Regions from separate parts of the Homo sapiens genome. Here region 1 is linked to region 2. Evidence: fine-mapped expression QTL. A gene starts in region 2. The other region holds a variant in brackets. All regions are shown on one strand. Distances are from middle to middle.

The links. PIP is the estimated chance that this variant, and not a neighbour inherited with it, causes the effect.
Region 1: its variant is fine-mapped to the expression of MYO9A in whole blood (INTERVAL, PIP 0.99).

Annotation. Positions count from the first base shown.
Region 1 is chr15:71,817,571-71,822,888 of GRCh38, forward strand. It overlaps NR2E3 (nuclear receptor subfamily 2 group E member 3), which reads left to right. Exons shown (of 8, transcript NM_014249.4): 8 at 1-683. The coding sequence ends at 114. It overlaps MYO9A (myosin IXA), which reads right to left. Exons shown (of 42, transcript NM_006901.4): 42 at 4,721-5,318. Among named protein-coding and RNA genes, the nearest start is that of NR2E3, 9.7 kb to the left of the region's middle. The variant G/T (reference allele first, on the strand shown) is at 2,223.
Region 2 is chr15:72,115,562-72,120,940 of GRCh38, forward strand. It overlaps MYO9A (myosin IXA), which reads right to left and starts at 2,589. Exons shown (of 42, transcript NM_006901.4): 1 at 2,119-2,589. It overlaps SENP8 (SUMO peptidase family member, NEDD8 specific), which reads left to right and starts at 2,842. Exons shown (of 2, transcript NM_145204.4): 1 at 2,842-2,903. RefSeq lists an enhancer at 1,531-1,740 and a silencer at 1,941-2,710.

The sequences.
Region 1 (5,318 bases), 300 kb before region 2:
CTCCTCCCGTCTTTGAGGTTTATCACTGCGGAACGCATCGAGCTCCTCTTTTTCCGCAAGACCATAGGGAATACTCCAATGGAGAAGCTCCTTTGTGATATGTTCAAAAACTAGTGGGGGTGGAGGTGAAATGTTTCCAAGCACTCTGGAAAACAATCTACTGAAACGAAACATTTGCCTACTCTTTGCCCCAGCAATTCCTCGTAGGTGTGTGTACCCAGCAGAAATGCCCACCGAAAGATATTGTAAGAATATTCATAGCAGCTTTATTCATAATAGCCCCAAACTGTATATTGATGGTAGGATGAATTAACAAGTTGTGGTATATTCATATAATGAAAAATAATTTAAAAAGAATGAATTACGGATACATGTGGCAACACAGGTAAACTTCACAGACATAAAAGTTGAATGAAAGAAGCCAGGCCGAAGTTCCATTTATGCAGAGTTCAGGAACAGGCAAGACTAATTGACAATAATAGAAGTTGGAATAGTGGTTACTTCTGGGTGGTGGGGGATTGATACAGAGGGGGCTCATGGGAGCCCTCTGGTGTACCAGAAATGTTGATTTTGATCTGGGCAGTGGTTTCACAAATGTATTCATACGTAATAATTCATTGAGCTGTGCACTTTATTTTGTTAGACCTCAATAAAAAAGTAAAAAAAAAAAACAAAAAAAACCAGAAAAATGAGTGTGGTCAAGGCTCTCCCTTTGGGGACACTGAAGGAATGAGCGCAAGGTCTTTGAGTTCCATCTGGGTTCCACTCCAAGTCAGAGACCAGGCGCAATGAATTCAAGCCCAGTGGAAAATCTCCCATAGAATTCAACCACCCAGCTTCTCTCCAGATGGCATCCCATCATCCGCAGCATCTCTCAACCTTTATCTCCTATCTCCTGCCTCATCTCCTTCCTAAGTAAAGAACACCTTCCAACTCAACATAAGGCAGCTACAGGTACGTTTTGTGAAAGGGACTCTTCATCACTTCTCAGGTCCTTATGGAAAGATACAGCTCAGACAAACTTCATCATTTTCTTTTTCTCTTTTTTCTTTTTTTGAGACTGAGTTTTGCTCTTGTTGCACAGGTTGGAGTGCAATGGCGCAATCTTGGCTCACGACAACCTCCGCCTCCCGGGTATAAGTGATTCTCCTGCCTCGGCCTCCCGAGTAGCTGAGATTACAGGTATGCACCACCATACCCAGCTAATTTTGTATTTTCAGTAGAGACGGGGTTTCTCCATGTTGGCCAGGCTGGTCTAGAGCTCCCGACCTCAGGTGATCCACCCACCTTGGCCTCCCAAAGTGCTGGGATTACAGGTGTGAACCTAATCCTTTTTGAAGATAGACCCAGATGACTGTGAAAATAATATTTTAACATGTTAACATAGATCAGGCAATGTATATATTAATAGCAGGCAGTGAGCCGGGCACTTTTTAAATTGCCATTTAATCCGCAGATTAACTCTGAGGGAAGAGCCAATTTTCTCCATTTATAAGTGAAAAAACTGATGCTTAGAGAGGACTCAAACCTTGGTGTGACTCTACCTAATGCTGCTTAACTTTGGCACCGCCTCTTTCCCAACTTCCCCTTCACTTTTGGAATGAAAGACTGAACAATTCTGTTGCATTTTCTGCCTTCAAAGGATAAGTGTTTGAAATCAAGACAGAAAGGGTCATGTGAGAAGGCTGAGAAATCCTAGGGGTTCCCTGTCCTTTGGCTTGTGTTTGAATTCCCTTAGCTGACAGAAATGCCCTATCTACTCAGGAACTCAGAACCGCTAGGGCTGGTGCCAGAGAGGAAAGAGTATGGCAAATGCTGCCCAGCTGAAGCCCTTCTTACTTCAGCCCCTAGGCTACTTCAGATTCTCTCCAACTTTTCAAAGTATCAGAGTGGCCTCAGTTAATCGGTCAACTAATGTCTATAATGCCATTATACAGTCCAATTCCCTATCAAAAGTTTTATCCATATGAGCTAAGCCCTGAGCAAAGCCACCTTAGTAAGACACATGGTTGAAATATGACATGACCAGCCCTGCGTATGTATCTTACAGTTTGGCTTTGGAGGACATGGTAAGACTGCAAAGGTAGCCTGCTGAAGTTCACAGGCTAGCATCTGGGATGTGTGAGCCCAGCACATCTACATTGGGAAGGAGATTTGAGGGCTCTCCAAGAAGTCTTGGAGAATTAGAGGAAGTACATAAGCTGGATTGTCTGCTGTCAATC[G/T]GGCATCAATACCACCCCTCCCCCACTTCTAAGGGCTTTTCTTCACTGCAGAGATGCCAGGAAGGAACTACATTTCCCAGAAACCCTTTCCCCTAGGATTTGCTAATGAAAGACACTCACAGGAGATTTTTTCCCCCCTAATGCCAAACTGATTAAATTTGGCATTAGGAAAAAGAGAAGCCATTTTTCTTTGGAGACACTGCAGCCCTGTCGTGGGAAAATAGATTTCATAGCAGCCTCCTGGCTAGAATTGCACTAGCTTCCAGGCAAGCTCTTGAGAACTCCTCTGGAACTTGTAGCTGAGATTTGCGTTGGCTTTCTTGACCTGTGGGAATATCTCTGACCTTTGTTAGATCCTAATTTCTGTATTAAGTCCATCTCACCTGGAATACAAAGTGGCCTCTGTTCTCCTAACCTGGTACAGCTCTCAGCATGTCTTACAGACAAGAATACAAACTCCTGTTTGTAAACCACCTAGGATGATGGCAGCCATTATTCAACTTCTTGTTGTAGATTGGCTCTACAGAAATTCTGATGAGTAATGGCTTTTCCATTGCATTTAGGGTCCTTATTAGGAGGGTAGATAATTTGAAAGCTTTTTTTTTTCCCCCTCAATGCCAGAAATATCTTTGGCTATGAAGCACCACAGAGGTAGTCCCTGTGGGACTATCTGGGCCTTTCTTTTCAAATAAAGCTAGTTTTTAGATTCACGAGACACTCCTCTACCCACAAGGGGATATTTCAAGGTAGGAAGGGCAGGGAAAGACTCAAAGATGCCAAGAAGCGCAACCTCATAGTCAAACCCAGGTATCATGGATGACTAGTCTCTATCTGGTGGACATCACTGGTGTTCCCCACTAGAATGCAGGCTCCACAGGGCAGAGATCTTTGTTTTGTTCACTAATGTACCCTAAGCACCTAGGACAATGCCTGTGGGCACTACCTGGAAGTGACACACTCCTTGACTGTGAGTCTGAGATACCTACAAGATTCAACAGTCAGATATTACATGTACTTTATCTACTTTCATGTTTATATCTCTGGCTCTAAGACACTGTACTGCCACCCATTCTAGGGGCAAAAGCAATTTAAAAAACAAACCAAACCAAAGCTGTGGTCACTTTATAACTTGCCTCTCCTTATATACCTTTCTGTTCTCAGGTCTTCATAATCACAATAGTTGTCTTCTCAGTAATCATCTCAGGGGCAAGTTTTAAGAATGTATTTCGGCTGGGTGTGGTGGCTCACACCTGCAATCCCAGCACTTTGGGAGGCCGAGGCAGGCAGATCACCTGAGGTCAGGAGTTTGAGACTAGCCTGGCCAACATGGTGAAACACCGTCTCTACTAAAAATACAAAAATTAGCCAGGCATGGTGGCAGGCACCTGTAGTCCCAGCTACTTGGGAGGCTGAGGCAGGAGAATCACTTGAACCTGGGAGGTGGGAGTTGCGGTGAGCCGAGATTGTGCCACTGCACTCCAGCCTGGGTGACAGAGTGAGACTCCATCTCAAAAAAATAAAAATAAATAAAAATGGTATTTCTAGGTTTTATTTGGGCAACTAAGGGAATTTTAAACAATTAACACTTCATATTTCAATGTAATATAAATTTAATGCAAAAATGAAAATGTAAATGTAACGTAAAAACAAGTGAGAAGGATGACCCCAGAATTTTAAAAATTGAATACATTTGGCATTAGGGACATGTTTTTTTCCCCATGTAACCTCAGACCTGATTTGGCATTTTGGAACCACTGATCCTAGTCAATCCTCTCATCCAATATCTGCCTAGCCAGCACCTTTTATTAGGTGCTGGGATCTAAGAGTCAGCAAGACAGGTAAGTGTTTGACGCTGTGAAAACTGAGAGCTGTTGAGAACACAGACCTCTAACCCAATTCACAGGGTCAGAGCAAACTTCCTAGGACAACTACCTTTTATACTAAAACCTGCGAGTCAGTAGGAGTTCTCCAAAGCTGGGAGTTTGGGAAACAGAACTGACTTCCAGATAAGAAAACTAACATTCAGAGAGAGCGAATGCCTTTCCCAGACATGCAGTAAAGTTGGTAGCAGAACAAAAATGACAAACTGAGTTAAAATTTCTGTTCCTATTGCAATGTGTTGCTTTGAATTTCAGTGAGAATCCTTGGGCCCTCTATTGGCAACCTCTATTAGCAACTTCTTCAAGTGGCCAATTTAGGGGAGGATCCTAAATGCAGATTTACTGCTTTTCCTCCCTTCTAGCCTTAAACCGATTAAATGAAGTCTTGACAGCCAGCAGCCTGCATCCACTACAGAAAAAACGACACCTTGAATCACACCTTCACTTGAATTCAGTTGAGTTCCAGTGACTACCACCTCTGTGCTTTGTCAACTTTGGGTTGAGTCCTTTCCTGAAAACACATCAGTGTAACTAAGAAGTCACTGCTGTTTCTTGGAGTTGGGTTGGAATAGTTGGAGTGGGAGCCAGGATGGTTGGAAAACAAACCACACATATTGCTGCTTCTGGAAGCTTTGTTCTTTAATGAGCCATGGGGTGATTTGTTCATCAAGCTGCTTTTGTGTAGCCATACAGTGCATATTTTGAGTGACACAAACTGCACTTTATACAGATGGTATCTTGTTACCCCTCAACCCCCCAGCAAAGAAAAAAAAACAAAAAGGAAATTACAAAGTGCCTATTGATTGCATCCGGAATGTAATCAGTTCCGTGGGTGAGATAAATCATTCTTCTTATAGAATTATTCTATTAAACAGTAAAATGTTATATTTCACAGGATATGTCCTTTTATAATACAGTTTTTAAAAAAAATTTACACTCAGCATACTTATAAATTACTTAAAATCCATTAAAATAATATAATACGAATCTGTAGTCCACACCTTTCCCATAGTAAATACAAATACTTGGTTCAAAAGGTGCAACTTTTATATGACCTCAGAGGGCTGATAAATAGGCATTAAGAATGGATGACTAGCAAGGTGACAGGCCCATTGTTGGGGCTTTTTTGAAAATAGTTTCAACCAGGGGACCAACATGAGACCTAATAGATCCATCTCCACAATCATCATTTTGCTGTTACCCTTTCAATACCCAA
Region 2 (5,379 bases):
GTCTCACCATTTGCCTGGATAACCCTAATATTCCTGGCCTTTAGTCTTATTCTACTCTTCAATTCACTGCAGCCAGAATGACTTTTTTAAAATGCAAATCTGATCATTCCAGTCCCCTGCTTTAAAATCCTTCAATAATTTAATAAATATTATAATCATCATCACAGCTAGTCACACTGTGGAAGCTCAGAGGTTCAATGAGAAATTTAGTTACATCCTTTCTGTAGGTTCAACATAAAAGAATCATCAGGAATTTTTTTCAACTCACAAAATTATTTAAACATACATATAACATCAGACACATTTAAAAGAAAAGCATGTAACATTGTTGGTAAAAGCAAAACACCAAAAATAACCTCCAGTCCACAAAAATGGAATACTATCCAGCCAGTAAATGAGGCACTTCCATATGTATTGTTAAGAAATGACCTCTAGGATGTAGTATTAAGTAAAAAAAACAGGCTATGTATAGAATGTAAAGTATGCAACCATTTGTGTACAGTGTCTTAAAAATATAAATGTGTAGGTTTATATATTGGAAATATCACAGAAAGGATACACATGAAGCTGGAAATAGTGGTTGCCTCTAAAGAGGAAAAATGGGTGGCTGGAGAGTGAAGGCGGAACAGAAATTTTTACTACATTACTCTTCCGAAACTTTTGGCTTTTACGTCTAGTTATTATCTATAATTTTAATGTGATTTTCTCCTGTTACTTTAACATTTTTTACTGTGTGTGTGTGTATGACTACAAAGACCTCTTTATATTTCATCTTTATACCAATATTAAAATTACGTACTGATCATTTGATGCAACATTACATTTCTTTCTTGACAACTCAGGAGCTCAACTTCTACAAACATTTTATTCAACATTTTACTGCTATTGAGAAGGCTGTTGTTGGTAATGACCTCAGTGAACACTGCATGATTTCTGTACTTGCTTCTTGGAGAAGCAAGACAGCAGCACCAGGCAACAGAAGTTTATTATTAAACCGACATCGAAGCATTCAGGGATTAAGGAATGCTACAAATCTTATTTTTCTAGCAAATCCAAAAAACAGTGAATCCAAAAAAAGTCCCCTAGTATCCTTTAAAAATAAAAATAAGAAACAGTTCTAGTATCTGCAGCAATCGACAAGGAGGTGAAGTAATACTACAAGACGACATAGTTATATCCACTAGTGCAACGTGATTTAATCCTTACAGAGGTCCCTAAAACATCAGTGCTGGACAACCTCACACGTTCTACACAGAACAGACAAGACGAGGTGCAGGCTCTGTGACCTTATAATGGCACACACACAACTGGCCTCATGCTTCCATAACTTCACTCTGCCTCCCACTTTTTTCAGCCCAACCCCTCCAAACATGGGTCTCGGTCGGTCCCCTTAAGCCACAATGGAGGGAATACATTAGGCTAAGCAAATATTCCCTCAGGATTTCATGGCAAAGCCCTTTCAACCAAAGAAAGGATCGCGACTAAGGAGAAAGATAACAAGGTTTGCTTGAGGAGAGGTCTGTTGAGAGAGGCTACAGTCGGTGGTGGGAGAGAAGCCAAAGTCTGTGACGGTGTCTAGAGGGACTGACACCACATCTACCGGGAGTAAGAACACCATGACAGCGGCTATCTGAAAGCCGTGATGGCTAGGGTTAGTGCTAGTCGGCTTGGTGATGAGCGAGCTGGGAGGGGTTCTACTAAGAAGAGTAGGGCGAGGGGCACATGGGGGACGCAATGGGTTAGGGGGCGGTCGAGACTTTGCCTGAGAACTGTAATCACGTCAGCCCAAGGGAGGATGTAACGTAGTCTAGAAGCTCCATTAAGAGTCCTAAGGGACTCTGAGGGGTACTAATGGGGTCTGCTGGGTTGGGGGGACCGTGACAGAATCTCCGGGGAGGCTGGAGGGCCGGAATGGTGCCCGGCCAATGGAAGATACAGGGGGTGGGGTCTACTGGGGATCCGGGGCCGTGATCTGGTGTTTGGGAGGCTCGGCGCAGACCCGCTCGCGGGGCGTCTCCGCTGGGACGGGGCGGGGCGGCCCGACCGGAGCCAAATAGCGAGGCTGAGACGTGGGCCAGGACGGGCTGCAGGGCCGCTGGGCGCTTGGGCGGGTCTTACCTCGGGCTCCGCCGCGGTGGCCACCGCAGCCCCCTCCTCTTCGACGGAAGCTGCCTTCCACCCTCCGCCCCAGGGTAGGACCGGAGATGGCAGAAGAGGCCGAGGCCACCGAGGGTCGGACGGTTCCGGGAGGGTGGGCCCAGCAGCCTCAGGGTCCGGGCGAGCGGCCGCGGCGCATCCCCCGCCCTGTCAGAGAGACTCCGCCCGGCCTGAGCAGGCACATCCCCCGCCGCACCCCGCCCAGAGAGCACGCGTTGGACCGCCGCCTCAACCGCTGCCAGCGGCCGCCTCTGCCGGTGCAACTACTGCCTCCGCCGCCGCCTCTCGCAGTCCGGGCTGTCCTGTACTCTCTCAACAGACACAGCCAACCGCCGCCGCGTCCCTTATCCGCTTCGGTCGCGCGCCCCCGACCCCGCGCACGCGGCCCCGCCCCGCGCGACTCCCCGGCTGCAGGCGAGCAGGCGCGCGCGCACTTACCTCCCACGCCCCCTACTGCCAGCACGGGTCGGCCCCGCCCTGTCCCGCCCCCGCACGTGACGCCACTGGAGAGTACAGCGTGCGCTTGCGCAGACACGCCCCCTTTCCTACGCCCCAGGCGGCCCCGCCCAAATTTTTTCTTCTTCACCTTACGGCAGAGCAGGGAACTCAGCTTTAGATTCTCCCTGTACTGGAAAGGGATGTCGCAAGGTTGGGGACGAAACCTCTGAGTTTGCGACCGTAGCTGTCGCTTTCCGGCCAACACAGAGGTGCCTGAAGGCTGGTTGGGGTGGTGAGGCCCGAGGCAGGTAAGAAGCCTCCTCCCCACTTCGGTTTGTCTCGGCAGTGGATCGCTCTCCCACCCACTCAGATTCTGGCGTATCCGTGCTCCCTCCCGATTCTGGACCTGGATTCTCAGCGCCGCCGGTCATAGCCCCCGCCCCTTTTCAAACACGCACGCTCTCTCCACCCACTGCCCCCTCCATTGTCCCCGCCCCGACCTCCGTTTCCATTCATTTCTCAGACTTTTCACTGAGTGGTTTCCATGCCTTGGGTTCCAGAATGTCAGAGGCGAATTAAGTGGTGTCAGCTTTTTGAAGTGCTTTTGTATAGGAGACCGTGAGAGAATCCGCAGTGGTAGTACAATAAAGTGACAATAGAGAAAAATGCACGGGATGCTGTCTGCGCACAGAAGAGGGGTCCCAGGTTGTGTAGGAGGATAACGTGAGGAAGCCCTTTCCAGGGTGACTTTTGGGTCACTTTTAGAGGACTGTGTTAAAAGACTAGTAATCCAGTACCTGGTCAAAGAAATACGAAAGGAGGTAAAAGCAGAATAACGGGCGCAAGAGCATGTGACAGTGGTGGTCTGAAAGAGAAAAAAGAAGTAAAATAAACCTGATGGAAACCGTACTAGTGTAGACTTCCCTTTAAAGAAGCATCGTTATAAAGTTAGAGAAATGAGGAACGAGAATATGGCCCTCAGGAATGTTTTCTGTTTAGGTAGAAGACTCAAAAGCGTACCATGAAACCGAGAAGTGGCCTCTTCGAGGGTGAGGGAGGCTAATTTATAAGATCAAGATCACTAGTGGAACGCAACCTTGTATGTGCATTTGAATCACCTGGGAAACTTTTTGTTAAATAAAACCAATACTGTTGCCCCACTCTAGACCAATTAAATTCTGGGTTGTGCCAGGTGTCATTACTGTTTTAAAGCTCCACAGGTGACTCTAATGCTAAAGATTGAGACTCACTAAACTAGAGAGAAGGAAGTTGAGACAGTTGGCTCTGTAACATTAAGATGGAGGTCATTTAGCCGGGCGCGGTGGCTCACGCCTGTAATCCCAGCACTTTGGGAGGCCGAGGCGGGTGGATCACGAGGTCAAGAGATCGAGACCATCCAGGCCAACATGGTGAAACCTCGTCTCTACTAAATATACAAAAAATTAGCCGGGCGTGGTAGCAGGCGCCTGTAGTCCCAGCTACTCGGGAGGCCAAGGCAGGAGAATGGCATGAACCCGGAAGGCGGAGCTTGCAGTGAGCCAAGATCGCGCCACTGCACTCCAGCCTGGGTGACAGAGCGAGACTCCGTCCCCGCCCCCAGAAAAAAAAGATGGAGGTCATTTAACTACAGAGAGGCTTGGAGATGGAATGAGAAACTTGAGCGGCGTTATGTTTGGAATAACTGGTCTGGGAAATGGGAGAAGGAGCCACTCTTGCCTTTCTCTTCAGCACTGTTCATTCCTCAGTGTTTATCAGGTCCAAATTAGTTACTTGTCTCTTTGCTCTCCCGTTCCCTTCCGTCCAGGATTGGTCAGCTGTTGTCTCCAGCCTTAAAGCTCAAAGGCCATCCCCACTTCTGTCCCCAAAATGATCAGAGCTAAGCCAATTTATGAGATGCAGAGACCAACATCCAGAGCTAAGCCAATTTATGAGATGCAAAGACCAACATCCACTCTCATAGAGATTACTACATACAGTGCCTTGCCAATTTAGAATCTTTTTCTATTATTTATCATTTAAGTTAGTAATGAGATATAAAGATATTTAAAATACAGCTCAATTAGGATGGAAAATTACCGTATTAGGGAAAGCAGGCCTTTAAACAAAGAATTCACTTGGCAGGCAGAGAAGCTGTATGAGGTAAAGACCAAGACAGTGTATGGCTGCTATCTATTAACTAGGGTTAATCCAAAAACCTGTCTATCAGACCCAGATAAGAACGAGTTATTGTTGTCTAGTATGGCTAGAGCATAGTATGGAGAGTAGAGGTGGGACAGAGATGAAGATGATAAAGTGGGTGTGAACAGATTATGAGGAGCCTTGAATTCCATGGTGAAGAGTTTAGATTATATTACTAGAAGTAATTAATAAGTACAAAAAAGGTTCTTAACCTCTTTTACCCAGTGGACCTTGTTGGCAGTCCACCTTATAGATTCAGTCTCAGAAAAATGTTCTTAAATATATAAAATAGAATACGTAGTAATATAAAGGAAACTAATTTTGTTAAGTTTTTAAAATATTAAAACAAATGTGTGATATATATGCACTTTATGCATTAAATAAAATCTGGCAGCAGGTCTAATTATATAATTTCTAAGTAGTGATGACTATAAATTATATTTTGAAATGCCTGCAGCAACTTTAATGTGATGTGAAAATATCAGATTTCTATTGGTAAAAAAGAGAGTGCTAATATTGTAGTTTGTGGTCCACACTTATTGAAGAAATGCTAAATTTCAGCTACTGATTATTGAAAACAAAGATGCAATTGTTTTCCCAGTCTAA